Linked DNA regions of Homo sapiens. The protein of the gene in region 2 purifies or fractionates together with the protein of the main gene of each other region. This does not show direct contact. Each region holds a gene or a part of one and is shown on either strand. Other genes may lie near its edges. The genes, in order: LIPH and C3orf52.

Region 1 (15,891 bases), about 73 Mb from region 2:
GTAGCCCTGCAATGTTAGACCAGGGGCTTTCAAACTTACATGCTTCAGGACCGCATGGAAGACAGGGGACAGTGTTTGTTAAAATACTGATGCCTGCGCCTCCTCTGAATTAGAAATATTTGAGGGTGGACCTGAACTCTGTATTTTAATAAGCACGATTTTGATGCAGGCAATCTATGGATCAAGCATTGGATGACAGTGAAAGATACCTCGATTGCTACGTGAGCAATCAAGGTCTTTTTTTTTTTTTTTTTTTTTTTTTTTTTTTTGAGATGGAGTGTCACTCTGTTGCCCAGGCTGGAGTGCAATGGCACAATCTCGGCTCACTGCAACCTCCGCCTCCCAGGTTCAAGCGATTCTCCCTGCCTTAGCCTCCTGAGTAGTTGGGACTACAGGTGCCCACCACCACGCCCAGCGAATTTTTGTATTTTTAGTAGAGACGGGGTTTCCCCATGTTGGCCAGGCTGGTTTCGAACTCCTGACCTCAGGCAATCCACCTGCTTCGGCCTCCTAAAGTGCTGGGATTACAGGCGTGAGCCACTGCACCTGGCCCTGGGTCTTTCACCAAAGCATATTTGCTCTAATTCTTGCCACAACCTTAATTTGATTTCATCTTTTCTCCTCCCACTTGCCAGCATGAATTCTTATCTATGGGATTTTATAAAGATTAAATGAAATAAAATACACTGAAAGAGCGCAGGGCCAGATGAGAAATTGTGTGTGTATAGAATATGTGATATAGTATTACTAAATGCTTCAACCGCTCTACTCTTTCATCACTTCTTTTACAACCAAGGATTTCAGTATTTTAAATGTGACCACCAGAGGTCTGTATACCTGTACCTGTCTTCCCTGAGAGAGAGCTGCACCATCACTGCGTATCCCTGTGACTCCTACCAGGATTATAGGAATGGCAAGTGTGTCAGCTGCGGCACGTCACAAAAAGAGTCCTGTCCCCTTCTGGGTAAGTCTAACCAGCAGTTTCCTCTCTGATTCACAAAGAACTAATTTTTGGTATGAATCCCAGAACCACTTTATCATGTAAAAACTGGCCCCATAATTGTATTAAAAACTTGTTTTTCTGCTGGGCACAGTGGCTCATGCCTGTAATCCCAGCACTTTGGGAGGTTGAAGCAGCTGGATCACTTGAGGTCAAGAGTTTGAGACCAGCCTGGGCAAAATGGTGAATCCCTGTCTCTACAAAAATACAAAAAGTAGCCGGGTGTGGTGGTGCGTGCCTGTAGTCCCAGCTACTCGAGAGGAGGCTTAGGTGGGAGGATCACTTGAGCCCAGGAGGTTGAGGCTGCAGTCAACTGAGATCATGCCACTGCACTCCAGCCTGGGTCACAGAGCAAGACCCTGTCTCCAAAAATAAATAAATAAAAGGTTAAAATTTAAAAAAAAATTTCTTAAAAAGAAAAAAATTTTAAAAATAGACTTTTTTTTTCTAGTCAGCTTTTTCTAGCCAATTTGTTCTTTGAACTACTCTAGTCTCCTACTAATAAACAGTGTTAGAAAGCAATGTAGACTGGGCATGGTAGCTCACGCCTGTAATCCCAGCACTTTGGGAGGCTGAGGTGGGCGAATCACAAGGTCAGGAGTTTGAGACCAGCCTGGCCAACATGGTGATATCTCATCTCTACTAAAAATACAAAAAAATTAGCTGGGCATGGTGGCGGGCGCCTGAAATCCCAGCTACTTGGGAGGCTGAGGCAGGAGAATCACTTGAACCTGGGAGACGGAGGATACAGTGAGCTGAGACCGCGCCATTGCACTCCAGCCTGGGCAACAAGAGTGAAACTCCGTCTCAAAAAGCAAACAAACAAACAAAAGAAAGAAAAAAGAAAAGAAAAGCAACTGTAGAGTATTCCATCCAGAAGGCAGTACAGCCTCCCTGGACCCTCTATTCTAGCATGGAAAAGAAGGTTACAGAAGAGTTTCCAAGCTTACCCAGGGTACAGTCACTCTACGTAGCCTGCTCCTGTGGGGACAGGAATACCCTTTCTGTGCTTACAACCTCTCTGCTGGGAGAGGGTCCACAATGAGCCCAGAGACTCTCCTGACAAGTGAACTTTTTCACAGACTCATGTCTATGTAAATGCCCTCACTCCACATTCTGGCTCTTGTGTGCACGTACAGCAGGTGGAGTGAGGTAATAGATATTGTGGAGGCTGCTTGGATATTCGCTAGGGATTAGTACAGATATTCTAGGTGGTTAGGACTTTGAAACTGGATGGTCATGAGGATTTTCTATTTTTTTTCCAAAAGGAAAAATCCAAGTTAACAACAGGGCATGGTATAGACAAGGGGTTCTCAACCTTGATTGTGCTTTAGAATCACCTAAGGAGTTTTAACACAATACTGATGCCTGGGTCCCACCCTGGATCAATTAAGGCAGAATGTGAAGGCCATTCTCTAGGGCTAGGGACAGAGGAGAGAAAGAGGGCCCTCTGGACAGCAAAAACAAAGGAGGACACTCACCTGCTTAGTGACACAGTCAGTCATGTGGCAAGCCCAGGTCTATGCAATTTAGGGGCCCCATTGTAGTTCTTCAAGAAAGCATATTGGTTTTCAAGAGTGATGCTATTTTAGGTATGAACTTGAATCTGTTTTAATCTAGAAAATGAATGTATTACTGAAAAATGTCAGTGTTATTTTTAGTCCACACCAGTGTGTGCCACACCCCACACCTCTCCACCCTGCTACTGAGAACCAGTAAAGGGGGAAAACAACTGGAGGGTCCTGTTGCCCTTCAGCTCTTAGGGACAGGGTTGGCCAGCAAGATGGGTCACCCTGCAGGCCCTCACCATGGGGGATGGAGGTGGGATGGAGTTTCTCTCAGAAGTGGTGGATACAGTCAAACTCAATGTTCTTGCTACCTCAGTTGCTTTTATGTTTGTATAATACATATTAATCTTACAATTTTTTAAACTTGTTTCATAGGCTATTATGCTGATAATTGGAAAGACCATCTAAGGGGGAAAGATCCTCCAATGACGAAGGCATTCTTTGACACAGCTGAGGAGAGCCCATTCTGCAGTGAGTGGTGAATGTGGTTGTTGGCTTTTGCCTAACTCTCATTTTGGGGATGGCTGAGTCTCAGCTTCCTGGCTACTTCTTGGCAAATAAGAGCCATGATGAAGCATCAACTTTGGAGCTGGAAGGGCCTCGGTTGACTCCTGAGTCTACCACATAATAGCTGTGGGACCTTGGTGAAGTCATTTGACTTCTCTGAGTCTCAATGTCCTGACTGGTCAAATGGGGGTAATAATGCCTGTATTCTGGGATATTAGGTTTAATCTGATGCCATTTAAAAATATTAATTTAATAAAATCTCAACAAATCAGAGTTGTTAGTTTCACTGGATGACCATTCTAATCACTAAGATCTTCCAGAAAATTGCTTGATTCCCCAAAAGACATAAAATTAAGACTAGGAAAAATCAGGTGTCAGCCATATCTACAGGTCAGTTCCAGCTCTAAAGCAAACATGATGACCCAAAGGCCTCGAGAGGTTGAGTATTCCAGATGGGAATTAAAGGGGGCAGCCAATGATTAGACGCCTTGGGAAGCAACTAGAATTTCCTTGGGCAGATGTGTTTTTCCTACAGTCTTGTACCCATTTTCACTTTCCTTGGGAACAACTATTTTATTTCATTTTATTTATTTTTTTTGAGACAGGGTCTCACTCTGTCACCCAAGTTGAAGTTCAGTGGCGCAATCTCAGCTCACTGCAATCTCTGCCTCCTGGGTTCACGCGATCCTCCTGCCTCAGGATTCCGAGTACCTGAGACTACAGGTGTGCATCACCATGCCTGGCTAATTTTTGTATTTTTAGTAGAGACGGGGTTTTGCCATGTTGGCCAGGCTGGTCTCAAACTCCTGACCTCAGGTGATCTGCCTGCCTTGGCCTCTCAAAGCGCTGGGATTACAGGCATCAGCCACCATGCCCAGGCTATGTTAATTTTTTTTTGAGACAGGGTCTTGTTCTGTCACCCAGGCTGGAGTGCAGTGGCACAATAATGGGGCACTGCAGCCTCAACCTCCTGGACTCAAGCAATCCTCCTGCCTCAGCCTCCCAAGTAGCTGGGACTTCGGGCATGCGCCACCATGCCCAGCTAACTGTTTTTTTTGTTTCTTTTAGAGACAGAATCTCACTATGTTGCATAGGCTGGTCTTGAACTCTTGGGCTCAAGCAATCCTCCTGCCTTAGTGCTGGGATTACAGGTGTGAACTTCCATGCCAGGTGTGAGCAACTCTTTTAAAAGAGCCTGGAGGCTAAGCATGGTGGCTCACGCCTGCATTCCCAGCATTTTGGGAGGCCAAGGCGGGCGGATCACTTGAGGCCAGGAGTTTGAGACCAGCCTGGCCAACATGGTGAAACCCCATCTCTACTAAAAATACAAAAACCCCAAAAACAAAATATAAAAATTAGCTGGGCGTGGTGGTGCTTGCCTGTAATCCCAGCTACCTAGAAGGCTGAGGCTGGAGAATTGCTTGAACCCAGGAGACAGAGGTTGCCGTGAACCGAGATTACGCCACTGCACTCCAGCCTGGGCAACACAGAGAGATTCTTTTAAAAAAAAAAAAAGCCTGCAGATCACTGGGTTTCCCTCTTTCTTTGGAGCCATGTGTGGCAGCCCAGGATTTGGCACCTACCTGGTCTGTATGGGGCAAGCCCCTGAGCAAGTTGGGCCATAAAATGGCAAATCCAGGACTGACCTTATTCCTTCGTGGGACTGTCATCTCCCTGATTAGTTCCTGTTGTAGCGTGTTTTAATTTTATCTTTTTTTTTTTTAAAAAAACCCATAAGACATTATTCAGGTAACATTTGTATAGATGTACCCACATATTCACCACTTTTTTTTTCTCTGAGTCTGCTGGTTAGGGAATGCCACTTTATTTTTATTATCACCCTTTCTTGCATTTTGTAAATACAGGAAAGTGTGCTGAATAATAATGGGGAGAGTCCAGAGTATGGCAGGAACTTCAAGAAAGGAGACCTGACTTAGTCTGGGGGTCAGGAAAAGCCTTCTGGAGGAATGACATTAAGTTGAAACCTAAAAGGTGGATTCACAGAGCTGGCAAAGTAAGCGTGCCCAGGTGGGTGAAGGCCCAGGAGCCTTCACAGTGCAGGGAGTGCAGGTGGTGGAGCATGATTGGGAGAAGGATGAGGAAGGCTGAGTAGGCTGGTGGACTTGGCCCAAACTGTGGAAAACCGTCTCAGCCCTGGAGGGTCTCCGAATGGCCCCTTAGTTGGTTGAGTCTAAAATGGGCAGGAATTGATGTGAACCACACTCAGCCATAAGCCCTAAGACTTCACAATACCTGGAAACACTGGTTCAACGATGATGCCTGACCATGGTGACTGGAAACCAATGAACTCTGCTATCACTCATGCCATCTTTACCAAAGAGAAGAGAAGGGAATATTAGAAACTTCTGCCCTGGATCTTTGCAGAGAAACCAGAGAGAAAGAGAAGAAGAGACTCAGTGATTAGGGAGGTTCAGTTTTTAGGAACCAGCCCTTCAGGGGATCAGTTGGTAGTATCTCTCTCTTACCGTGTTCTCTCTCTGTTTTGCAGTGTATCATTACTTTGTGGATATTATAACATGGAACAAGAATGTAAGAAGAGGGGACATTACCATCAAATTGAGAGACAAAGCTGGAAACACCACAGAATCCAAAATCAATCAGTAAGTTGAGTTACAATTGTTTGCAGTGCGCTATTTCCCTTTTTGCTCAGAGAAATTAAATCACAAATCCACCTACTTTCTTATTTATAGATCTATGCTTTTCCTTGTTCTATAAAAGATATAAGGGGAACTATTGCTTAGTTGCTTCCCTGGTTCTTGATCTCCCAGGGTCTTTACAAATGGGATTGGTGCAAGGGTTTTCTTTCCTTCCCTCCTTCTCTTCTTCCTTTCTTTGCTTCCTCCCTTTTTCCTTCCTTTCCTCCCTCTTTCCCTCTCTTTCTCCCTTTGTTCCTCTCCTCCTTACTTCCTTTGATTAAACATGTAATACAAAAGTTATCCTTGTTTTCGATAAAGGATTTAAACAACAAATGAATATGCTGATTTAATTATCCCACATTGTATACATACATCAAAACATCTCAGCTCACTGCAACCTCCTCCTCCCAGGTTCAAGCGATTCTCCTGCCTCAGCCTCCTGAGTAGCTGGGACTACAGGCACATGCCACCATGCCCAGATAATTTTTTGTATTTTTAGTAGAGACGGGGTTTCACCGTGCTGGCCAGGCTGGTCTCAAACTCCTGACTTCATGATCTGCCCGCCTCGGCTTCCCAAAGTGCTGGGATTACAGGTGTGAGCCACCGCGCCTGGCTGATTTCCTTCATTTTTAAGGCTGAGTAATATTTGATTATATGCATATACCACATTTTGTTTATTCTTCCATCAATGAACACTTGGGTTGCCTCCTCCTCTTGGCTATTGTGACTAGTGCTGCTATGAACATGGGTGTGCAAATGTCTGAGACTCTGCTTTCAATTTTTTTGGACTTGTATCCAGAAGTGGAGTTTCTGGATCATATTGTAGTTCTCTTTTTAATTTTTTGAGACACCACTATACTGTTTTCCTTAATGGTTGCACAATTTTCCAATCCCACTGATGGTGCATACAGGATCCAGTTTCTCCACATCCTCACCAATATTTGTTATGTTCTATTATTTTGATATTAACCATCTGGATGGGTGTGAGATGATTCTGTGTCTTTTGAACATTTACATCTTTTTTTTTTTTTTTTTGAGACAGAGCCTTGCCCTGTCACCAGGCTGGAGTATAGTGGCCTGATCTCGGCTCACTGCAAGCTCCACCTCCTAGGTTCAAGCGAATCTCCTGCTTCAGCCTCCTGAGTAGCTGAGACTACAAGCGTGAGCCACCATGCCCAGCTAATTTTTATATTTTTAGTAGAGACGGGTTTTCACATGTTGGCCAGGATGATCTCGATCTCTTGACCTTGTGATCTGCCTGCCTCAGCCTCCCAAAGTGCTGGGATTATAGGCATGAGCCACCGTGCCCGGCTTCCATCACTGTTTAAAACACTTACTAACTTTCTGGCACACGGGTTTCCAGGATCACTTTGCACGTTTCCTGCCCCAGCCATGGAATCAACCATTTCTCCAGGGAGCTCTGGTTTCTTTCAGTAGAGATGGTGTTAAGAAAACAAAATCTGGGCACCTCTTAGATTAGTTTTATTTGTGGCACTTCTGTACTCCATGGGACTTAGACATGATCCCAGTGGGGTGACAGATACCTCGTCACGATTACCCCATTCCCAAAGTAAGGATTAATGTTGGGTAGGCTCGGTGGCTCATGCCTGTAATTCCAGCACCTTGGGAGGCCGAGGCAGGCGGATCACCTGAGGTCAGGAGTTCAAGACCAGCCTGGCCAATATGGTGAAACCCTGTCTCCATTAAAAATACAAAAATTAGCCAGGAGGGGTGGCAGGTGCCTGTAATCCCAGCTACTCGCGAGGCTGAGGCAGGAAAATGACTTGAACCCAGGAGGCAGAGGTTGCAGTGAACCGAGATCACACCACTGCACTCCAGCCTGGGCAACAGAGCAAGAATCCATCTCAAAAAAAAAAAAAAAAAAAGGATTAATGTCTAGAGCAAGCCTTCTGTTCCCAAAGCCAGGGGCTCCATGGTTCTTCCACCTCCCCAGAAAGACAGTGAGTGAGCTGAACCTCTCCAGTGATATGCCTTACCTTCAATTTGGTTTTCCACCTATAGAAAACATCTCTATACACTTGGATAACAGGATCAGACTCTGGATTTGCCTTTTTTAAGGTTCATCTTGAGAGGGAGAACTAAAAAAAATACATGCTACAGCACAATTCAGTTAGCATCTATTTTGGCTAAAGATATACTTAGGCATCTAGGGATGCAGTTTAACGGAAAGATCATAACTTTGAACTCAGCCAGAACTGGGTTGGAATCTCTTCACTGCTACATATAAGGCCTGTCACCTGGGGAGCTTGATCTCTGTAAGCATCTATTTCTGTCTATTAAATGAGGAGAATAATGCCCCCCTTGCGGAATGTTCTGGGGAGTTGGAGAGATGAGTCGAGAGACAAGGACATCATCTGGTGTGTACTAGGCAGTCATTAGCATCGTGCCTCTCTAATGTCATTTTGGGTCACTTACATCGCCCTTTGGAGTCAGCAGACTTTGCCCATCAAAGTTGACTAGTTCTTGGGTGGTTACTACACTCCAGCCTGGGCAACAGTGTGAACCCTGTCTCAGAAAAAAAAAAAAAAAAAAAGTCAGCTGGTGCAGGCTATGGGGTGAAATAGTTACCAGCTTACCAGTGACTTGCAGGCTTCAAAACTGCTTTCTCTCATTAGTAGTCTTTATCCATTTTTCAGTATTACTTCTTCCTTCCAGTGAACCCACCACATTTCAGAAATATCACCAAGTGAGTCTACTTGCAAGATTTAATCAAGATCTGGATAAAGTGGCTGCAATTTCCTTGATGTTCTCTACAGGATCTCTAATAGGCCCAAGGTACAAGCTCAGGATTCTCCGAATGAAGTTAAGGTCCCTTGCCCATCCGGAGAGGTGAGCTGAGGGTACGGTTTGACAAAACGCTGTTTTCCAAAGATGTTGCTGGATCCTGTCCAATCTGCTTGGTCTGATGTGTTAATAAGACTCTATTATTCACAATGAGGGACATGATGGGTTTTCCAAAAATAGTTTTTATTATAAACAAGTAGCCCAGGCCAAGTGTAGTGGCTCAAGCCTATAATCTCAGCACTTTGGGAGGCCAAGCTGGGAGGATTGCTTCAGCTCAGGAGTTCTAGCCAGCCTGGGCAACGTATGGAGACCCTGTCTCTACAAAAAAAGAAAAAAAAAACAACCCAAAACAGAAAGCAAGTGGCCCAGCCCACCTGCATTTGATGGTACATGACTGTAATCCCACTACTCAGGAGGCTGAGGTGAGAGGATCACTTGAGCCCAAGAGTTGAAGTCCAGCCTGGGCAACATAGCAAGATTCTATCTCAAAATAAAAACAAAAAATTAAATAAAAAATTTTAAAAATAAAAACAGGTAGCCCAGTAATCCAAGAAAATTATACTGCATGTACTTAAAGGTAGATAAGGTAGATGGCCTAGTAATCCAAGGAAATAATGTTGTTATATGCTTAGAACTATACAGTTCTTCCCTAACTACCACACTGCTTGTAAGCTGGTAATTTGTTGTAGAAAAGAAAGCTTTGGATAATTTGGCAAGCTGATTAAACAGAGCCTAGTATAAAAAAAGGTACAGAAAATTGGAACATTTTATTCCCTTGACCACAGGCACGTCCACCACACCCAGCTAATTTTTGTATTTGTGATTTTGTATTTTTAGTAGAAAAAAATATTTTCGTATTTTTAGTTTCGCCATGTTGGCCAGGCTGGTCTTGAACTCCTGGCCTCAAGTATCCGCCCGCCTTTGTCTCCCAAATTGCTGAGATTACAGGCATGAGCCACTGTACCCTTGACAGTACAAAAGTATTATATTGAATTTCTTAAATTTGATAATGGCACTGAAAATGTCCTTGTTCTTAGGAAATATACAATGAAGTATTAAGGAGTAAACAATCTATTCTCAATTGTGCCAGAAAAAATAAACAATGTATGTTTGGGGAGAGAAAGAGAGAGAAACAGAGAAAGAGGGCGAGAAGGAGAGAAAGAATTATTATTTAAGTACAGAGCTGTGTTGACATGTATGTTTTGTGACAAATGCCAGTCTACCATATAGTCCTAGCATCTAACCTGTGGACAGAGAGGGAGACAGGAAATGATGTGAGTAGTTAGTACTTTGTGAATTCCTTTTTCTTAAAAGTTTAGGGACTGAACACGGTGGCTCATGCCTGTAATCCCAGCACCTTGGGAGGCCAAAGTGGGCGGATCACCTGAGGTCAGGAGTTCTAGACCAGCCTGGCCAATGTGGTGAAACCCCGTCTCTACCAAAAATATAAAAAATTAGCTGGGCAGTGGTGGTGTGCACCTGTAATCCCAGCTACTCGGGAGGCTGAGGCAGGAAAATTGCTCGTATCTGGGAGGCAGAAGTTGTGGTGAGCCGAGATCGTACCACTGCACTCCAGCCTGGGTGACAGAGTGAGACCCTGTCTCAAAAAAAAAAAAAAAAAAGAAAACAAAAAAAGAAAGTTTAGGGTACCTTAAAACATTTAATAGTACAAGTTTCTCCTAAGAGGATAGTCATTACATCCTAAAACTTTTTAATACTTTTTTTGCCCTGAATATCAGACAATATATGTTTATTTGACAAAATCTAGAAAGTACAGAAATTGTCAGGAAACAGAAAAATATCACCCATATTGTCATTATTCAGAGGCAACCACTGCTAATATTTATTGTTATTTCTATATAATCTTCCTTTCTTTTATTGTTTTTAAAGCTGAACTTACATGGTAAATACAATTTTACATCTTTCTTTCTTTTTTGGTACGGAGTCTCGCTCTGTCACCCAGGCTGGAGTACAGTAGTAGCGCGTTCTTGGCTCACTGCAACCTCCACCTCCTGGGTTCAAGCAATTCTCCTGCTTCAGCCTCCGAAGTAGCTGGGATTACAGGCACACGCGACCACGCCCAGCTAATTTTTTGTATTTTTAGTAGAGACAGTGTTTCACCATGTTGGTCAGGCTGGTCTCCAACTCCTGGCCTCAGGTGATCCACCCGCCTTGGCCTCCCAAAGTGCTGGGATTACAAGCGTGAACCACCGTGCCTGGCCATATATCTTGCTTTCTCCTTGGTGTTTTACTTACCATAAGCATTTTCTTTCTTTTTTTTTCTGAGACAGAGTCTCATTCTGTCACCCAGGCCAGAGTGCAATGGCGTGATCTCAGCTCACTGCAACCTCCACCTCCTGGGCTCTAGTACTGCCTTAGCCTCCTGAGTAGCTGGAACCACAGACACGCACTACCACACCCAGCTAATTTTTGTATTTTTAGTAGAGACGGGGTTTAGCCATGTTGGCCAGGCTGGTCTTGAACTCCTGGCCTCAAGTATCTGCCCGCCTCGGCCTCTTAAAATGCTGGGTGGGATTACAGGCATGAGTCACCGTGCCTGGCCACCGTAAGTGTTTTCTATATTAAAAACAATTGCTAAATAATTTTGTATCTTAAGGATATAATATTATTTACTAGACCATTGCATTTTTATAAATTCATTTACAAGGATATTTTGTCTTATTTTCCCAGGCCTCAGCTGTGTCGGTATGATCTTGTCCTGATGGAAAACGTTGAAACAGTCTTCCAACCTATTCTTTGCCCAGAGTTGCAGTTGTAACTGTTGCCAGGACACATGGCCATAAATAATAGAAAGAAAGCTACAACCACAGGCTGTTTGAAAGCTTCACCTCACCTTTCTGCAAGGCAGAAAAAGTATGAAAAAAACCAAGGCTTTTTTCAGTAGCGTCCTATGGATGTCACATTGTACATCAAACAACCTTGTGATTATAAAACGATCCTGGGAAGGAGCCCCTAACTAGGGCAAGTCAGAAATAGCCAGGCTCGCAGCAGCGCAGCGCTGTGTCTGCTGTGTCCTGGGGCCTCCCTTGTTCCGACCTGTCAATTCTGCTGCCTGTCACGCGGGTGGTTCTGCCCATCGCGGCTGCGGGTCAAGCATCTTCAAGGGAAGGACGGACTGGAGGCCTCACCGTGGACTCAACTCTGCATTCTCCGTGCCACATTCCTCCAGTTCCCACACGTAGAAGGGAACGAAACTGACGTCTACCTCATGGGGCTGCTGTGTGGGTTTGGGAGGCAAAAATCTATGAAGGGTTTTTTGAAATCCCATAGGTGCCACATCTATGAGATGTTTGATAAATGTGAATATGCTTTTACATTTGGGCTTATCTAATTTGCAATAAGAGAGCCTCTCTCTATCAACACCAGCTTCTCTCTCGGGCTGTTTGCTCAGGGAAGGCAAGAAAGCCACGTGCTGGCCCTCTGCCTTCTCTAAAGTGCTGTTGGAGCATGGAGGAGCTGGAGGAGATGGGGATGGACTGACAGCTAAGAGGGCGGCTGCTGGGACTAGATAGTGGATGAAGAAAGAAGGACGAGGAAGCCGTGGGGCAGCCTCTTCACATGGGGACAGGGGATGGAGCATGAGGCAAGGGAAGGAAAAGCAGAGCTTATTTTTCACCTAAGGTGGAGAAGGATCACTTTACAGGCAACGCTCATTTTAAGCAACCCTTAAGAAATGTTTATGTTTCTTTATTACCAATGTAATCTATGATTATTGAAGGAAATTTAGAAAATGCGTAGATACAAAATTAAAAAAAAATACTGTCCACGATCCTATTAGAGGTAATTAATGTTAGCCTTTTGGAACAAGGCTGTCACCTATTTTGCCAACACGTGAATTCAAAACATGAACCGGTTTGCTTTTGGAGAATCTGAAGACTCCAGTTTGAGGAATCCTTTGCTTCCCTGGAGGTAGATGCTGTCTGCAAATCTAGAATGACAGCAGGAGTCCAGTCAAGAGGTCCTGTCAGGCCAAGGCCAGAAAGAAGGGAGGACAATCCCTGGGGCCAGATGCCCAGTGTGAGGGGAGGCATGATCTGTCCCATGGCTGTGGCCACTGCAGGAAGGTCTGTGAAAAGGAGGTGACAGGCCCAGTCACCTCCTCTTCACCCAAGTGATTGCTCCTTCAACTGCTATCTGTGAAAATAGCCTTTGTTATGAAGAAATTGACTCTCTCTCTCTTTTTTTTTTTTTGGAGTTGCCTAGGCTGGAGTGCAATGGTACGATCTCAGCTCACTGCAACCTCCACCTCCCAGGTTCAATTGATTCTCCTGCCTCAGCCTCCTGAGTAGCTGGGATTACAGGCATGTGCCACCACACCCGGCTAATTTTTGTATTTTTATTAGAGACAGGGTTTCACCACGTTAGCCAGGCTCGTCTCGAACTCCTGTCCTCAGGTGACTACCCGTCTCGGCCTCCCAAAGTGCTGGGATTACAGGCATGAGCCACCACACCCGGCCAAAAATGGATTCTCTATGTCATAAATTAAAGAAATCTATAAATGTATTCCTGTGTGGCACATCTTCTTACAGATTTACATTTGCAGCAAATACAGAGTCTGTTTTATTTAAGTGAGGGATGACTGAACTCTGAGTGGAACAAGCTCTTGGACATGTTACCATCCTTCCTCCTCCTTCTCACATTTCCTCAGCAATTGTGGATAGAGAGATCAGTGTGCTGTAGGCCCTGGTTTTTTTTTTTTTTTTTTTTTTTTTTTTTTAGATGGAGTCTCCTTCTGTTACCCAGGCTGGAGTGCAGTGGCACGATCTTGGCTCACTGCAACCTCTGCCTCCCGGGTTCAAGCAATTCTCTGCCTCAGCCTCCCAAGTAGCTGGGATTACAGGCGCCCCCACCATGCCTGGCTAATTTTTGTATTTTTAGTAGAGACCTGGTTTCACCATCTTGGCCTTGAACTCCTGACCTTGTGATCCACTGGCCTTGGCCTCTCAAAGTTCTGGGATTACAGGTGTGAGCCATCGTACCCGGCAGCCCTGGTTTCTTCTTAGTTTTATTGGTCTGTGTTTTGATCAGCACAGTCACTTTTTTGTTCTCTTTCCTGGTAAGCAGGGAGTCAAAACAATAGCAAGAAAATGCCAGAAATAGAATTTCTACTACTTTGTAAACTCTAGGCTCGTGGGTCTCCTAGCTCTCAGTACCTGGCTCACTGTAGGATGGGTAGATGGGTGAATGAATGGATAAAGAAAGGAAGTTTGTTCACCGGAGAGGAGATGAATTTCAGTAAGTTTCATGTAACAGTGATCAGGAGAAATAAAGGCAGTTATAACTGTGGCCACTCTGTTCTCAGAATCTTTCTTCCAAGGGCCCCTGGAACTTTTGACTGTCTCTTGTTATCCTTGCTTCTCTTCCCCTCTCTTTCTCAGTACCATATATCTGTCTGAGTGCCAAATTCAAAGCACAATTAAATTACAGTCTACCCTCTTCCCTCCCCTCTTCACTGGTGACCTCCTACTCATCATTTGGATCGTGGCTCAATTGCCACCTCCTCAGGGAGTCTTCTTGGACCTTATTTCCATACAGAGAGGTTCCACACTGTACCTCTCCTTCATAGCACTTTTTAGTTGTATTTTTAAACATTTTTTCTTTTTTTTGAGACGGAATCTCACTCTGTCACCTAGGCTGGAGTGCAGTGGTGCAATCCTGGCTCACTGTAACCTCTGCCTCCTGGGTTCCAATGTTTCTCATGCCTCAGCCTCCCAAGTAGGTGGAACTACAGGCCAGTGCCACCATGCCCAGCTAATTTTTGTATTTTTAGTAGAGACGGGGTTTCACCATATTGGCCAGGCTGATGTCAAACTCCTGACCTCAAGTGATCTGCCTGCTTCGGTCTCCCAAAGTGCTGGGATTACAGGCGTGAGCCACCGCACCCAGCCTGTTTTTTTTATTTTATTTGCCTGATTATTTGATAAATATCTGTCTTCTCCACTAGACTGCTCTGCAAGGCAGGAGCCATGTGCTTACCATATAGTCTGCTTTCAGGAAACATTTATTAAATGAACACTCTTTGTTATTTTCTGAGCCCCATGGAACCATGTTCAGTTGTGAGTAAAGACTTGCCCTCCACCCTAGCCATAGTCTGTTTCCATGAGGGTGCCTAACCTTCTGTGCCTTAGACTTTTCTCCCAGACACCTTCATTACTATTGTCTCCATTATCTTTGGAGGCCAATAGCCCATTTCCCAGACTTCCTGGAAAAGAGAGAAGTTGGCTCCTTTGTCACTTTTTTTTTTTTTTGAGATGGAGTCTTGCTCTGTTGCCCAGCTGGAGTGCAGTGACCTGATCTCAGTTCACTGCAACCTCCACCTCATGGGTTCAAGCTATTCTGCCTCAGCCTCCCGAGTAGCTGGGCTTGCAGGCACATGCCACCATGCCCAGCTAATTTTTGTATTTTTAGTAGAGACAGGGTTTCACCATGTTGGCCAGGCTGGTCTCAAACTCCTGAACTCCGGAGATCTGCCTGCCTTGGCCTCCCAAAGTGCTGGGATTATAGGTGTGAGCCACTACACCCTGCCCCTTTGTCACTTCTTATCACATCTTCCAGGTGGTCCCAACACCTCACAAGCTCACCTGTCGAAAATCTAGGGGATTTTGTCCTTACATCCTCATTTTAGCACCATTGCCAAAATGCTCCAGGACCTTACAACATTAGTGGAGGATGCCAAGCTGTAGTTATAACCCTCCCTTGTTTGCTTTTCCATGACTCTCCTTTCCACCACTCACTTTGCTGCCAACTTCGTATGTTGTATTAGTCCCTTCTCAGGCTGCTATGAAGAAATACCCAAGACTGGGTAATTTATAAAGGAAAGAGATTTAATTGACTCACAGTTCCACATGGCTGAGGAGGCCTCAGGAAACTTACAATCGTGATGGAAGGGAAACCAAACACATCCTTCTTTACATGGTGGCAGGAGAGAGAAGAATGAGAGCTGAGTGAAGGGGGAAGCCCCTTATAAAACCATCAGATCTCATGAGAACTCACTATCACGAGAATAACATGGGGGAAACTACCCTTATGATTCAATTACCTCCGACTGGGCCCCTCCCACCACAAGTGGGGATTATGGGAACTACAATTCAGGATGAGATTTGGTGGGGCCACAGTCAAACCATATCATACGTGCTTCTGTCACTGCTGTTACGCTGTGTTGTAATTTGTTTCCGTGTCTTTAACTCCTCCAAGACTGTGACCTCCACAAGAGCAGCTGCTATTTATTTTTGGCTCTCTAGCACCTAGCACAATGCTAGGCACAGAGTAGGTGCTTGATAAATGTCTGTTGGACAGAATGGAATGGATGATGCTTAGAAACTTGAGGGAATCA
Region 2 (15,891 bases):
GCTACTTGGAGGCTCAGCTTCTTCACCATCAACAGGAGGATTACATCTAATGCAGGCAATCATCTATTACAGATGCCGAATAAATGATATCAAAGAGCATAGAGAAACAAAAATCTTTTATGATGTACGGAAAAAAACCATGCTGATACAGCTGGCTATTCAGGGTCACCCAGCAGTCCTCCAGCAAGGTAGAAACACCAAATCAATGAGTTTATGCTAGAATTTTTCACATGGCCACTGGACCATTGTGGAAGTAGACTGGTTGAAATATTCTTAGTATGACATAGTAAGTTATATTTGTTTGAACCTTATCCTGTGAAAGCATTATCTGTCCCAAACAGTATATGCCTTTTATCAGGGACACATTAAATATAAATGTTTAACCAAAGAAAGTTGTTCTTATAATGTAATTATAACAGGGATTTATAAGAGGGAATTATAAGAGGGATTATGAAAGGGAATTACTTTTGAGCAAGGGGAGCCATTTGGGAGTGCTTCAAGATACCCAATATGATATACACAATTATGATTTGTCAGTCAAAAATAATATTAAGAACAAAAAAAGAGTTAAAAAATTCTGATATGAGTGTAATATACTTAATATGTAGGATGTCTCAAATTTCCAGTAAATAAATTTTAATGTCCCAAAATACCCACTATGTCTGTATGTAACACTGATCCTGTTTCCCCTACATTTCATGATTTCTAATGAAAGCTGTGCACTCCCTTTGCAGAAAATGCACATTCACATACACACACATTTGTATACGATGTGTGCGGGGGTTAGGGATGCAACCCCTCAGTGAAAGAGTCCCTGTCCCTGATAAAGAACCTGAGCCTGAGCATTTAAATTACTCTCTCGAGCCACAAATATAACCAGAAAACTCCTCCTCCCTCATGCTGGTCTTAAAACTACATAGCCAAAATTCAGAGGCACAATTTATGCCACAACTGCAGACTTTGTGGTTTCCGTTTCACGTACATACTAGCATCTATAAATAATCCCTTATTCTGTGAATAAATTCTTATTTAAAACAGAAGAGAAAAATAGGAAGAGGGCAAAGATAGGGCGGGAAAATCTGTTGACAACAAGTTGAAATGCTAACGTTTTTTAGGACAAACTTGAGTGATAGATGCTTCGGATAGTCTCAGGGATGGGGAAGGGCATGGACAGAACAGGAAATAGAAGTCTCCAGGATTCCACAAGGGCTCCAGGGAAAAGTAGATTCTGTTTCCACTTATCTCTGTTCTTTTCCAAGCCTATAGCCTCAATTCAGAAACCCACTTGATCTGAGTGTACCTTGGCTCTGCCAACTGTGAAGTGGACCAGTGTAAATTCCGTCTACTTTCCTACAGAATTCTCTTTTGCAAGGCACTTGGTGAAGCCTTGAGAGGTCATCATCATCATAGAAAGCCTCCTGCAGTCTGAGGGCCCTCCCTCTCCATTCACCCCTGACCCCTGATCACTTGTGCTCCTTAGGGATTCCCAGATGTCAGCTAAGCCTGAACTGAGCCTGCCTCTGGGGATCCTACCTGAGCTGGTGGCCATTCATAGTATGTGGTTGCCCTGTGGGCTAGGCTTTGCCCTCAACAAGCTGTGGAACTCTGGGCTGGTCCTCCCAGCTCTCCAGAATTTGATTTCCCAACTGTGAGATGAGGGAGGTGCCTTTTGAAGCTGAGTCTGTAATCTCTAGTCACAAAGGAAAGATTCAAGGATGTCTGTGGATAAAGCTGCCAACAATGCAGCAATTGTTAATTCACAATGCAGTGTAAATTAACTTATTTTAAAGCAATGAAAGAGTGATGGGAGAGGAGAAGGAGGACATTGAGAGATTTCTCCCATTTTTTCTTAGCATTGATCAGACTCTGAATAGGACAGGATTCATGTCCAGAATTCACATGTAAAAGACAAAAGAGAGAATATGTACCTCATCCTAAGAAGACACGAACATGTGTAAAGGAAGGCAAATCTTCTTATTCAAATCCCACCAGTGCTTCAGGATTCGGCTTCAGTCCTACTTCCTACAAAAAAACGTCCTCTGATTATACTGACCACTCTTTTCTCTGACCACCCGCAACCCTACTGTTTCTGTTTGTTTGTTTGTTTGTTTGTTTGTTATGGAGTTTCACTCTTGTCACCCAGGCTGGAGTGCAATGGCGTGATCTCAGCTCACTGCAACCTCTGCCTCCTAGGTTCAAGCGATTCTCTTGCCTCAGCCTCCTGAGTAGCTGGGATTACAGGCGCCTGCCACCACGCCTGGCTAATTTTTAGTAGAGATGGGGTTTCACCATGTTTGTCAGGCTGGTCTCGAGCTCCTAACCTCAGGTGATCTGCCTGCCTCGGCCTCCCAAAGTGCTGGGATTACAGGCTTGAGCCACCGCGCCCAGACTGCCTTTGTTTTTGACCCCTGGGTATTTTTTTCTGCTGTTTCCTGTTTCATCTGTACTGATCCTGACTCCTTAATAAGACTAACAGCTTCTTTTCTTATTGTTGTCTTCTCCACTAGTATCCCCATAGCCTTCCATAAAACACATCATTTTTTCAAATCTGTAGAACTAAATTAAATTGAAAGGCAAAAAAGAATCAGACACATGGCTGGAATTTTTGTTGGCAGAGGAACAGGAGCAGGTTCTGCTGATATGGCTGTTGCCATTCTATCCATATCTAAGTGACATCCAGAGAAGAGCAGTTTTCTTCTCAAATCCTTCAATTATTAAAACCTCACTATGTACCAGGCATTATGCTCATCATGATGTTGTGTGATGACCAGTAGATTTATCTCCTATAGCAGAACAGTGCATTTGTAAGGGCCGTTTTTTTTCAAACACCACCAAATATGTTAGTCACAAAGGTTAGTTTTTTCCCATACCATTTGGGCAGAAAAGTCAAATCTATGGAAAGTCCTCTCTATGACTTGCAAATGGTCAAAACCCAAGACAAGGTACTTGCATCTTGGTGCTTTCTGAACAAGAAGGGAAGAACAAAACCAAATCCTGCCTCCAGACATGAACAGGCTGTTCCTTCAAGTCCAAGCCCTTTCAGATACCAAGTCCTGCCAGAGAGGGCCTCAGAGAAAGAGGAGGGGATGGCCTCTGCCTGCTCTTGCTGGAACAGAGGGGAGAACCCAGGCCGCCCCAGCCAAACTTGGCTTGATCTTATTCACCCAGAAGAGGAAGCTGCCCTAAGGGAAATGAAAAAAATTATGCTCAACACCATTTACTGCAAAAAACAAACAAACAAAAACCCAGCCCAAAGCTCAGCCAATGGGAATGCAACAACACAGATGCAAAAATAATGTATTGTAAATGTTTTTAAATCATTCTCCATTAAAATTTTTCATTATTTTCTACAAAATACAAATACACTAAGGTTCACATTTAACATGCAGAAAATAAAGAGGAAGAAGAGAAATCCACTAGTTTCACTAGTTTAAGGAACAATCACTAAAATGAGACAATGATCTATAGTACATGTATCTTCTAGTTAAATAGGAAAGCAAATTCACATTATCCAGAGTCCTGGGTCATAAAGAACTCAAGTCAAATCTAGTCTGAGGCAGACACTCTGGCTCGTGCCCGCACACAGCTGCCCTTCACACTGACTTTAACCCAGGGCTCATTTAACTGAGAGGCGAGATCTCTCACAATACAGCACAAAACTCTTTCTCCTGGTAAATTTCTTTTCCCAACAAAACAATCAGTTCCCTCACAACAGGCAATTCTGTATCTGTAGACAACCAATACAGTTGCTAATATTCCTCCTACCCCCCAAATAGCTGGCAAAAGCTTCCAAGAGTTTATTTTCAAAGAAGAGTGGTTCTTCTTGTATCACAACCATCTGTAACAGGATACACAATCATTGCCTGAAGACACTGAGTCCCACAGGAAGGTTTGTAGCACTAGGCAACAAAAAGCCAATGCGTAATATCCAGAGCAGATATTAAACAGCCTTAATGATTCTCTAATGGAAGTTTATAAAAATATAAATGGAGTGACTATCCAAAGTGATAGTAGTGTGCTCAAAACTCACAGAGACCCATATTTCCAAAAAGGTGTTCAGGAATCACAGGAACAACGAGGAGCTGCAAAATAATGAAGAAACACATAGCTCCCGTCTGTAACTAGCTATATACATAGATTTCAAAGTAACCTTGGTGGTGTTCCTAAGGCTGGCTGGCTAAGATACTCAGGTACAGGTCATGGAAGTAGACACAGAACCACACTGCTGAGGTCTTCTAAAGTGCCTTCCTTTTCTTCACAGCCTGGCTTAGAGGTAGATCAAATCGAATGGTGGGGGGGAGGAGGATGACTTCAGTGAATAATTGGCTTAGTCTTCGTAACCTGGCTGCCTGCCTCTCCGTGCTCTACCAGCTCATGCTTACGCGATCCCACCTAAAAGAAGACAGTGCACCTCTGCACTAAAGAAAAAGTAGCCCAGGTGGGTGGAGTGCTTCAAGAATAGCAGTGCCATGATCACGCCACCGCACTCCAGCTAAGCGACAGAACGAGACCCTGTCTCAAAAAACAAAACGAAACAAAACAAAAACAAACAGAATACCAGTGACCTCCAACAGTGGGACATACCCGCTGACCCTATCGCCCCCACCCTAGCTGGCTTCCTGCCTTTGTCAAGACTGGACCCAGCTGAAGCAGTGCTCGGGAGCTGTTTTACTGGGCTTAGAGCCAGACTGTAGAATCGGGAGAGAAAGGAGTCTCCACCCCTCTGGTGTTGCTGGTGCTTCTGTATTAATCCACAGAATCTTTTCTGCAAAACAGAGTGAATTCCCTTCATCTCCAGGACTTGGTAGAGCACTGCTTTCAGACAGAGACCAGCCTCCATCACTTCATTCTAAAAAGAAAACACAGATGAACAAAAGTTACTGATTTTTAAAACCACTATTAAATGCTTACGTTTTCATTTCATTTCATTGAATTTTAGTGTAAAATCTTAGATAAAATTGCAAGGTTTATACATTCCTAACAGAGGAAATTTAGTCTTCAGTCCAACACACACACACCGCTCTGAATACATTTCAAAAGGCAAATGACATTTATTGTTTCTTGCTTATTTGTTTGGGTAGGATGCATGAGAAATAATTTTGATGATGTGGTTTTTGGGTGCTAAGGACATTTTAACATCCAGTCCCTTTTCATAATCTAACCATAAACTCTAAAATTTCCGTTTTTAAAACGTGTAAAATATACTGTGAGAAATTCTGATGAGAGAAATGGTGTGAACCCTAGGGCACAGCAGGTGCAGATGCAAAGCCCCAAGCAGACACAACACAGGGGGAGCCCGCCGGGGTCTACAGACCAGGAGTCCAGCCTCGCCACCACTGACAGGACTGACAAGATTCACTATTCTCCCTACCTGGGGCTTTTTCCTCTTCTCTCTCACAAAAATCCTGGTTTTGCCCTTTTTCCCTACTCAGTCTACTAGCTGACTCCTTCCCATGTGAGAACAGTACCAAGTACCTCCTCTGTGTCCAAAATAACTCATGATGCTGACCTATTCTTCGACCTTTGTAAAACAGACTTCCCCCTCCTAGCCCAGGGCCCCACTCATCTAGGAGGTGAAGAAGACCAAAGATAGGGAAGGGTGAGGGATGATGGACTTAAAAAATTCCTTTATCATTATATTTTAAGTTTTTATTTTTATAAGGCATCCAAATATGCATGCAGTCAGGTCAAAATAATCGCCGTATTTCCAAATTAGAGAATGAGAAGCAAACACACACAAAACCCCTCAGGAATCTAAATTACAATCTAATTTTGGATTCTGCTTCTAAAGCGCACATATACAAACCCCAAATGGACCATAGGCTGGCCTCAGGGAAATACTCGGAATCCCTGAAATTGTCTGTACAATTTTGTGTTGTGGGGAGAAGTAGGTACATTTTTTTTTCCTGGGGAGAAGGTACACAGCTGTCTTCAAATTCTCTAAGGAGCACACAAACCAAACAATTTTAAGAATCTTTGCTCTTTGAAGACTAAGAACATTACCATTGTGGGAAACTAGTTGCCTGGGTAATCACAGGGCGGGGATGGTAATCCCCCAAGCCCACAGCTCATGAGCACGTAGAAACTGGCGTAAGAACTCATTCCATCCCTCTTGGTCCCTCCCAGGGCCCTGGGCCTCTCCCTGACACATTTTCCCTTTCTCTAGAGTTTGCCTCTGAGCTCATCCCCCATCTGCCTGCATGCCTGCGATGAGTCCCTCTTCTTCTTTCCTCACTTCCCAACTGCTTCTCTGTGCACCCTTCCCTTTGAGAGGGCAGTGACACTCACATTCTGAAAACATAAAATGGCTCAAATATTGCACATTCATGCTCTGGAAAGTGGGACATGGGGTCACAGAAAACCCCACATTTTCTCAGCATGTCCCGTCAGAAGAAATGTCTGAGAGAAAGAATGCAATTTCCAGAAGAGCAGAGACTTTGTTCCACTCACAGCTGCCTTCCCAGCACCTGCTGGAGCACCAAGCCCTGGGGAAACAGCTGAGTCTCTTTGGCCAAGCTCAGGGTCTTCTGGGAGCCCTCCTCAGGTCTCACAAGCAGCCTGCCCTTTATCCTGTACTATTTGAACCTCTCAGCCTTGGAAGCCTCTTAAACCTTTCCTCAGACCTCTGCCCATCTCCCTGGCCTCCATTTGGAAAGAGCCAGTAACAATTTTTGCAAGGGGCCTAAGAAAATCAAGACCAACCACACCACAGCAGCAGCCCCCACAGGCATCGCAGGCCTCTTCACATGGGAGGAGGCTGAAGGTTTCTGGGTTTTTTTTTCTTTTGAAATGGAGTTTCACTCTTGTCACCCAGGCTGGAGTGCAATGATGCGATCTCGGCTCACCGCAACCTCTGCCTCCCAGGTTCAAGTGATTCTCCTGCCTCAGTCTCCCGAGTAGCTGGGATTATAAGCACCTGCCACCATGCCCGGCTAATTTTTGTATTTTTAGTAGAGATGGGGTTTCACCATGTTGGCCAGGCTTGTCTCGAACTCCTGACCTCAGGTGATCCAACTGCCTCGGCCTCCCAAAGTGCTGGGATTACAAGCGTGAGCCACCGCGCCTGGCTTTTTTTTTTTTTTTTTTAATTCCTGTAACTGGGGCACAATCTCTTCACTCCACACACATATAGTGTCTGCCTGACCCACAGACACACTTTATTCAGGATGCTCTGTGAGGAAGATCTCCATTTATGAGACTTCCAGTGAGCTAAAATTTGGCCTTCTGAATGGCATTCTTAAGAACTGTTTTACATAACGTTCTGCCTTCTTAGGCCAACATTACTCTTGCCTCTCATCCTCAAGAAACAGTGTCATCATCATAATAAACACCTTGTCTTGTACTATGCACTAACACTTGTGCTTTTAACCCCCTGTTCCATGCTTCTGATTCTAGACCGTTAATGCACCTGCTGCCAACCACAACTACTTCTAATTTGCCTTTCATTCATTCAACTAGTATTTACTGAGAACCTACTCATGTGGAGAAAGTGATTCTGATGGACTGTGGATGAGAACATAAAATATTCAAGATTGTTGGCATTAGGGGCTAAATAAGAGCAAACAAGCCTCCGAGCGAGGTATCAGAAAGTGAGATCAGCAGCAAAGGCCAGAGCTTCACTACAAAGCAATGGAAGGATATTTTGAGGGCTTGAAGCCATTTGGCCTTCTGACCTTCCTTTCTGTCAGGTTTTGTTCTGAGTGTCAAAAGTTCTCAGATTCTGATAAATGGGGTGTTTGTTACATTTATTAAAGAACATATCTATTTCCTTGTTCTGTTCTTAATTTTAAAAGTTGACAAGTAAATTTGTCATAATTTTCTAAGGAAAGGAATAAACTTGTCTTTGTATACCCCTCTATTAATTTCTTAATGGTCTCAGTGGCCTTCAACAGAAAAAGAAATAGGTTCCCCATATTGAGATACTCTTTCAGCAATTTAGCTGTATCATTTATTTCCAATTCTTCAATTCTTACTTCTCTTGTGAAACCACAGTATCTCCATAAAGGTTGCTAATCATGTTGTAAAGTAGGATACAGGGCTTAGAATGTGGGTGAACTGCATGAGGAAACATGTAGCAATGTTCATCTTTATAGTTGAATTATCTTTTCCATAATTGCTCCCCAACTACACTGTCTAATTATGGAGGGCACGGACTGTGTAGCCTCCACAGAGAGGGGAACATCACCTCACAGCAACACCATCTGCTGAGGGGATGAGTGAATAAATGAATAGTCTGACACAGTACCAAGTCACCACAGTTGCCAAATCGAACCAAGCCAATTTGACCCCAATCTGGTTCACCTGTTTATTGTCACAACTCTGACTTCTTTACTTGCTCTACTTACCATAGAGCAAGAGGGATGTTGGATCAAGCCCCAGACTCTCACAACCAGGTATATTCTGATCACGGAAATCCTGTAGCAAAATGCCCAGCACCAACTCCTCACTCATCATATACTTCATAAAATTTTCATCATCTGATGGAACCCCAAATTGCAGGTCATACGTTACTGTGGCATTTTCACCACTGAAAGGCAATGGAAGACATTAAAACATAAACAGCATCATACTGCAACTCAAGAAATGAATTTAAGCAATAACTTTTTTTTTTTTTAGTTTTGCATGTTCTTCCAGTACAAAATAGCAAAGAATGTTCTGTCCTGGAAGAACATACTGTCCTATAAGAATCCTCTTCCATAGATTCATCACAAAAAGTTGAGGTGATCCTAACCTCCTCCTTCCACCTAGTACCTATCCTCTAGGAATCCACTGGGAGAGGCCATCAGAGGTAGAGGTAGAGGTGCCCATCTCCAGTCAAGATGCTGAGAAGATCCCAGGCTTGACCCACCATCTGTCCCAACCCCAGCCTTCATCCCTTAAGGCAAGCCAGGGAAGCCTCCCCTTTTCTCCACACACATTCCTTCTTCATGTTCTCAGCATTGCCCCCACAAAGGTGTGCCAGGGATATTTAGTTTAACCAATTCTTTATTTGACCTATGAAAATGTTTAAGGCACAGCCAAAGTTTCCTACCATTGGCTGGGTCCAGAACTTCTGAACGTTGACAGAGACCACCCTGTGTATCAGCAACAAATCAGGCTTCCCTGGTTTGTCCCCAAAGTGAGAAACTTTTCTGTCCCATTTCCAGAGGCCCCTAGGGCAAGATAACCAAGCCCTGTAACTCTCAGTAATGGGACCTAAGGAAAGGGAATTTTCATCTTCCTAGAACATTTTTTCCCATTTCCAAAATAAAAATAATCAAGGGCTACCCTCCATTAATTAGTGTCTAATGCTACTCTTTAAATGCTACTTCAACATTTAGTTTATTCATAGTTATCCTATTACTTTGGTTTAAGATGGGCCAGATTAAGAACCAGCAATAAAATAATGAGCAGGAGGCCACATCTGAGACTATCACCTTGGGGAAGTTTTGCAGATGCACCAGTCCCATTAGTGTGAATCAGGCCACTGCCCCTGCTAAGGATAGGCAAAGAGCTCCCTCTTCTGGCTACAGGTCACATAGGCCGATACTCTTCGATCTTACAAGGTGGCTGACAATTGAGCTTATAAACTCTACTACGGCTGGGAGATGTGCCAGATCCTGCAGATCAAATGAATAATGGAGAGTCAGGACTCTGAAGAAACTCATAGTTTCAAGGATGCCACTAAAGGAGGGCCAAAAAATGCACTTTCAAACTGCAATCCAGCTAACCTAGTTTGCAGGTGTCATAACTTGTTCCCTGAGCTCTGCCCTCTAATTATCGCTAATGATGATCAACACCTACACAGCCAGCCACCCTGCATTCCCAGGGGCAAGGACTTGGGCTGGCTAATGAAGAGGGCCAGAGTCTGACTTTCAGAAGACCAGGTCAGAAGCTGAATGGGAAAATCAGGCCACCTAGCCTGGCCTGGCCAGCCCATCCTAATCCCCCATGGCAGGTCACAGGGTAAATTTACATGAGGCTGAATTTTGAGAAAAGAGCAACTTTCAGGGCCTTTCGCCCAGCTGCCCACCACTGGAGTGAGTCTAGCAGCTAATAAACCAAAGGGCATTTTTCCAGGTTCTAGCTGGGCCAGTCCAGGGCTGAGGTCACAATGCCCCTGTAGACACAAATGCATGTGCCAGGGATTTAGCCGCCTCCCACCCATGTGCAGCAGCACCCTTTGGGAAGCAATGGCTTTTCTTCCTCAATTCAATACTTTAGGACCTCTGCCTGGACTTCTTGAAATAAAGTGCAGAGATGTCACCGTAAGTACCATGTACACTGGGTCTGTTTTGTTTTGTCTTGTTTGAGTCTCTCTGTGTCACAGGCTGGAGTGCAATGGTGCGATCTCAGCTCACTGCAACCTGCGACTCCCTGGTTCACACAATTCTCCCGCTTCAGCCTCCCAAGTAGCTGGGTTTACAGGCACGCGCCACCACGTCCAGCTAATTTTTGTATTTTTAGTAGACATGGGGTTTCACCATGTTGGCCAGGATGGTCTCAATCTCCTGACCTCATGATCTGCCTACCTCAGCCTCCCAAAGTACTGGGATTACAGGTGTAAGCCACCATGCCCAGCCCATTGGGGGTCTTTAAAGAAGGAGATCAAAGGCAGCCTGCACCATATGTATCTGTAGACTTCAGGTCTGTTTGGCCCCACACCATGGTGCTACCTACCACCTGCTTTATGTGCCTCCCCTCCCAGGTCTGCTAATATTAGGGTTTGGAGAACTTATAGTTTGAAGGGGGAATCTCAATATAATACAACTTTTGATGGTCATATTCCAGAGACATCTCAGGCATAATGGATAATGAAGCTTTGATATAAATTTTAAGTCATCTCCAATAGTCCCAATGATGTAAAAGGATAATAAATGGACTCTACACACATACACCCTGATGCCTACATCTCAAGAACATTAAAGATGAGGAGGAAATTTAAAAAATAAAAAATACATATGGGTGTGTATATCCTATGTGTGTGTAGTATTTGTGGTGCCTATGGTAGATACATGAACAGAAGTAATTACACTCAACTCTTGACAGCTATTACCTCCATGGAAGGGAATGGCATTAGTTATTGGTGGTGGCAGTGGAGAAGAAAGGAGGCAGAAGGGAGACTTTTCCTGTGCATACCTCTTTATGTCTTCTTTTTTTTATTTTTATTTATTTTTATTTTTTTGACAGAGTCTCACTCTGTCACTCAGGCTGGAGTGCAGTGGCGCAATCTCGGCTCACTGCAACCTCCCCTCCCGAATTCAAGAGATTCTCCTGCCTCAGCCTCCTGAGTAGCTGGGATTAGAGGCACCCACCAACACACCTGGCTAATTTTTGTATTTTTAGTTGAGACAGGGTTTCACCACGTTGGCCAGGCTAGTCTTGAACTCCTGACCTCAAGTGATCTGCCCGCCTTGGCCTCGCAAAGTGCTGGGATTACAGGCGTGAGCTACCACGCCCGGCCCCTCTTTACATCTTTAATACTAAACAAGGAGAATGTACTCCTGTATTACTTGTGCTCCTCAAAAGCAAATGCCTATACATGTATCACTCGCATCACAGCACGACCTGAGATCTATTTCTACTTCTACCCTTAGCTTATTTGAGCATTCATTGTTAAACAGAAATGGTTTACCTGGGACTGGCTTTTCCCCTCTTCTGTGTGACCCTGGTTGAATTATACCATTAATCTGGGCTTCCTTTTTCTCATTTGTAAAATAAGGGAGTTGAGCCTGTTGGTGTAAAAGACCTTCCCAGCACTGACATTCTGTGATTCTATTACAGGTTCCCTTCATGCTCTGAGGCTCTGGGAATCCCTGCTAGGTAAATGACGAAGGGTGGGGTGGGGGGATCTCTTTCCAGAGAAAGAGAGCAAAATGTAATGTTCCACACTCTTACCTGAAGTCCACTATTTCAACTGAAGTAAAATAACGACCCAGAGAGGGCGATGTACTGTACACATCTGTGAGCTAAACAAACAGAAGCAAATTAAACCACACACATTACCGACAGATCATATTACACATCACCTGACAAAGCAAAACTGCTTCTAAGGCAGAGGAGATTCCACTCCAGCCTGGAATCAACGTTATCTGGAAGCTCTGGATCAAGAATTGAGCCCACCATAAATCAAAACTCAAGTTAATGCTACTTCAAAAGAACTCCATTTATAAGGACCAAATGACTCAGTTTCTCTCAGAAGTTGCACTGGCACCCTGTGGCCTTAGTGGTGAGAATATCAGCAGCTGGAGCCCACACAGGCCTCACAGACCATAGGAAGGAGAGAAGAGAAGACCCCAAAATGGCTGCTGGACAGCAGCAGCACAGACCACTTAGCACCTGGGACATTGCTTAGCCCAGGGCTTCTTTCTCCCTTCTCCAGAGCTTCAGTGTAAAGACAAACAGCCATGCTAAGCCATGGGTCTAGCACATCCCCTGGACAAAGAGACAAAGAGGGGAACTGCAAAAATATGGAGGCTTTATTTTATGCATGAAATATTGCAAGCATCATAAAAAATAATGACACCTGTGTTTCCACTACCTAGCTTTCATGTCTTCATATTTGCTATATTGGGTTCAGCCCTTTAATTTAAGAAACAAAATAAAGCTAAAGTGACTCCTACATACTATTCAGTTCCTCCTCTCTCTCTTTCTTAATACTAACCATCATTCTGAAGCTGGCATGCATCCTTTCCTTGCATATTTTTACAAATTACTACTTATTTATGTAATCATAACAAAATATAATTTGTGTTTTTATTCAAATAAAAGGCACCATATTCTACATAATCTTCTAAAACTTGCCTTTTTTCACTCAAAATTACATTTAAGATTTACCCATAAAGTAAATCTCAATGAAAGGCATTCACCTAACTCCTGCACAGATTCCTTTAAATGAGTATACCAGCCTATCCATTCCTCTGATGATGATCACATGCACTATTCTCAATTTTCCCCATCACAACTTATGCTGAAGCAATCATCCTTAATGTCTCCATGCATCTCTTCTTGGACATGCGGGAGTTTCCAATGGGCATATGCCAAGAAAAGGAATTGTTGGGTTTAAGGGTAGGTGCATCTCCAACTTCACAAAATTGTTCTCCCTTTCCCACCCCTCCCAGCAATGTATAAATATCCATTTCCCACATCCTTACCAGCACTTAGTGTTACCAAACTTAAATTTTTACCACTCCGAGGAGTATAAAATAGTGCTTCACATTGTTTTAATTTGTACTGCCTCGCTTACTAGTGAGGTTGAACATCTTTTCATGTTTATTAACTCTTTGGGACTTTTCATCTCTGAATTTCTCACTCATTTCCTTTCCTTCTCTTGGCTTATCTGTCTTTTTCTTATCTATCTGAAGTGGTTAGTTTTATATTCTGGATACTAGTTGTTGATATTATGTTACAAGTATCTTTTCCCAGGCATTGAGTAGTTGTGTTTCAGATATCTGAATCCTAAACTAGTAGTACTAGGAACATGTGCCATCCCCAGCTACAGCCATTATGGCTTAATGACCTATTACTTTATTCAATAACAAGCAGTCGAACATACAAAAAACAGCAGTGCCCTATGGGGAGCTTACCCTGTTTCCCCTCAACTCCAAATGGAATGTCAAGGACGCTGCACTTCCACAATACACTCCCATTTAACTCAACATGTACAACCCATATCTCAAAGAGAACAAAAGATGAGAGTGCCTGCTATTTCTGCTCTTCTAATCTTGTCACTACTGTTGTGATCTTTATAAAAACCTGGCAAAACAGGCATTAATATATCTCCCCTTTTTACTGGAAAATTAAACAGCACTCCATTCCATGAGATGAAGAAAACCTGTCCCAGGTCACTGTGCTAGTAAAAGGAGAAGCCAAAATTCAATCCTACATGTTATGAACACTAAAAACCAGCTTCTTCCCATCTGACCACACTACCCAGTGAAGAAGAAATTGATATATATACAGTGAAGGAAAGTGTCTCCTGAATATCAAGGAGGAAAGAAGCTTAAAGTGACAAAAACTTTCGGAGAAAATGACTGAGTCATTGTACAGCTCTTAAGCCCCAATGCACAGGATGTTGCCGATAGGCTGACAGTCATTTAGAAAACTCGGGAACTAGGAAAGCAGCTTTCACGGGGATGCTGTGATGGAGAGGAGGATGAGGATGCTGCAGAGGAGAATCTTTTCAAGCACTAATGTCAAGCACTCATGTCTTTCTCTTCCTTTTGGATTGAGCTTCCTATGGCAAAGGTGATATTTATCCTTCCTTCCAGTCTTCTCTGCTTCCTCCTTCCCTTCTTTCCTTTATTAATCTTTAGGGCCCAGCACAGTGTTTTGCACATAACAGGCTTTCAGCAAATTTTTAAGTTAAAATTTTAAGGTAACATATGGAGTGGTCGACTAAATCATTTTTAGTGTTCACTCGAAGATTCTTTTTGATCATGCTCCTCTGCTGTACTTAGGACATATTTACATTTGGGGAGCTGTTAGTCACACTGTCCACTTTGGGCCCAAAGAAGTGAAATAGGGTGGTTCCTCAACCCTTAGTCTTGTGTCTCCCACACAATGTCTATGAGGCTTGGTGCAAACTGAGCAAGGAGCTCAGCGAATTGATTAGCTGAGTCTGATGCAGTGGCTAATTAGAGACCAGCTTCCAGAATAAGGCAGGTGCCATCATTAACTCCTAACCCATGCACAGGGTGTGGTAGTCACACAGGCTGGCTTAAGCAGAGTAATGGCCCCAACCCTGAGAGGAAAACACTGTGGCAGTGACACATGGCAGGGCCTGTGTTTAGAAAAGTCAAGGGAAAGGGCATAAAGTTCCAATACTGTGATATAATAACAATATGTATACTGTTTAGTCTCTGCCCCAGTTCCTGGCACAGAATTCCTAAAACCCTTGTTACTTCCTGAGTGACAGGGGCGCCGGGTACATCTTTTACTCTAACATTTGGTCTTTACTCCAGCTCCTGACACAGACCTGCTCCTAAATCTCTTGCAGTTTCCTGGGTTATAGGAGTGTCTTTATTTCTGATGAGGCAACTCTTGGCGGGCTGCTGGATGGGGGCTGATCATCAGAAAGACCAAGCCGCAGCTAGAAGCTTGGAACTTTCAGCCAGTGTGGTGGAGTGGGATGGTGCATGCGTGTAGTCCCAGCTACTCGGGAGACTGAGCAGGGAGAATCGCTTGAGGCCAGGAGCTTGATATCAGCCTAGGCAATATAGTGAAAACTGTCTGGAGAAAAAAAAAAGAAGAAGAAGAAATCTGAAGCTTTTGGCCCCACCTCCACCCCCATCCTCCAGAGGGGAGAGAGGCTGGAAAGCAAGCTAATAATCCACCATGCCTATGTGAGGAAATCTCCATAAAAATCCCTAAAAGACAGAGTCTGGAGAGCTCCCAGGTGGCTGAACACATTTACAAGGGAGAGTGGCACACCTGAAAGGACATGGATGCCCACATTCTGTCCCACGTGTCCGCCCTATGTACCTTTTTATCTGGCTTTTGATATCCTCTATTTTCTACAGTGTGCCCATAAATGTGATGCTTCCCTGAGCTCTGTGAGCCATTCTAGCAAATGACCAAACCCAAGGTGGGGGTTTTGGAGACCTCCAATTTGCAGCTGGTTGGTCAGAAGCACAAGTGACAACCTAGACTTGTAACTGAACTGGCATCTTTTTTTTTTTTTTTTTTTGGAGACTAAGTCTCGCTCTGTTGCCCAGGCTGGAGTGCAGTGGCACGGTCTCGGCTCACTGCAAGCTCTGCCTGCCGGGTTCACACCATTCGCCTGCCTCAGCCTCCCGTAACTGGCATCTTAAATGAGGGAAGTTTTGTGGGGCTGAACCCTTAAACTATGGGGTCTGCACTAACTCCAGGCAGATCATGTCAGAATTGAACTGGATTGCAAGACACCCAGCT

What was found.
Region 1: the proteins of C3orf52 (region 2) and LIPH purify together in Homo sapiens (affinity purification with mass spectrometry; 3 studies listed by BioGRID and IntAct, with this or other methods). This does not show direct contact.

What each region holds. Positions count from the first base shown.
Region 1 is NC_000003.12:185,504,215-185,520,105, reverse strand, and holds the end of LIPH (lipase member H isoform 1 precursor), read left to right. Parts: intron 1-796; coding exon 797-964; intron 965-2,943; coding exon 2,944-3,039; intron 3,040-5,584; coding exon 5,585-5,696; intron 5,697-8,408; coding exon 8,409-8,582; intron 8,583-11,228; coding exon 11,229-11,316; 3' UTR 11,317-13,844; downstream 13,845-15,891.
Region 2 is NC_000003.12:112,105,600-112,121,490, reverse strand, and holds the end of C3orf52 (TPA-induced transmembrane protein), read right to left. Parts: intron 11,949-15,891; coding exon 11,878-11,948; intron 8,691-11,877; exon of another isoform or gene 8,593-8,690; intron 8,528-8,592; coding exon 8,346-8,527; intron 4,850-8,345; coding exon 4,845-4,849; coding exon of another isoform or gene 4,493-4,844; 3' UTR 3,281-4,492; downstream 1-3,280. UniProt on the Homo sapiens protein: Has a role in LIPH-mediated synthesis of 2-acyl lysophosphatidic acid (LPA). LPA is a bioactive lipid mediator involved in different biological processes, and necessary to promote hair formation and growth.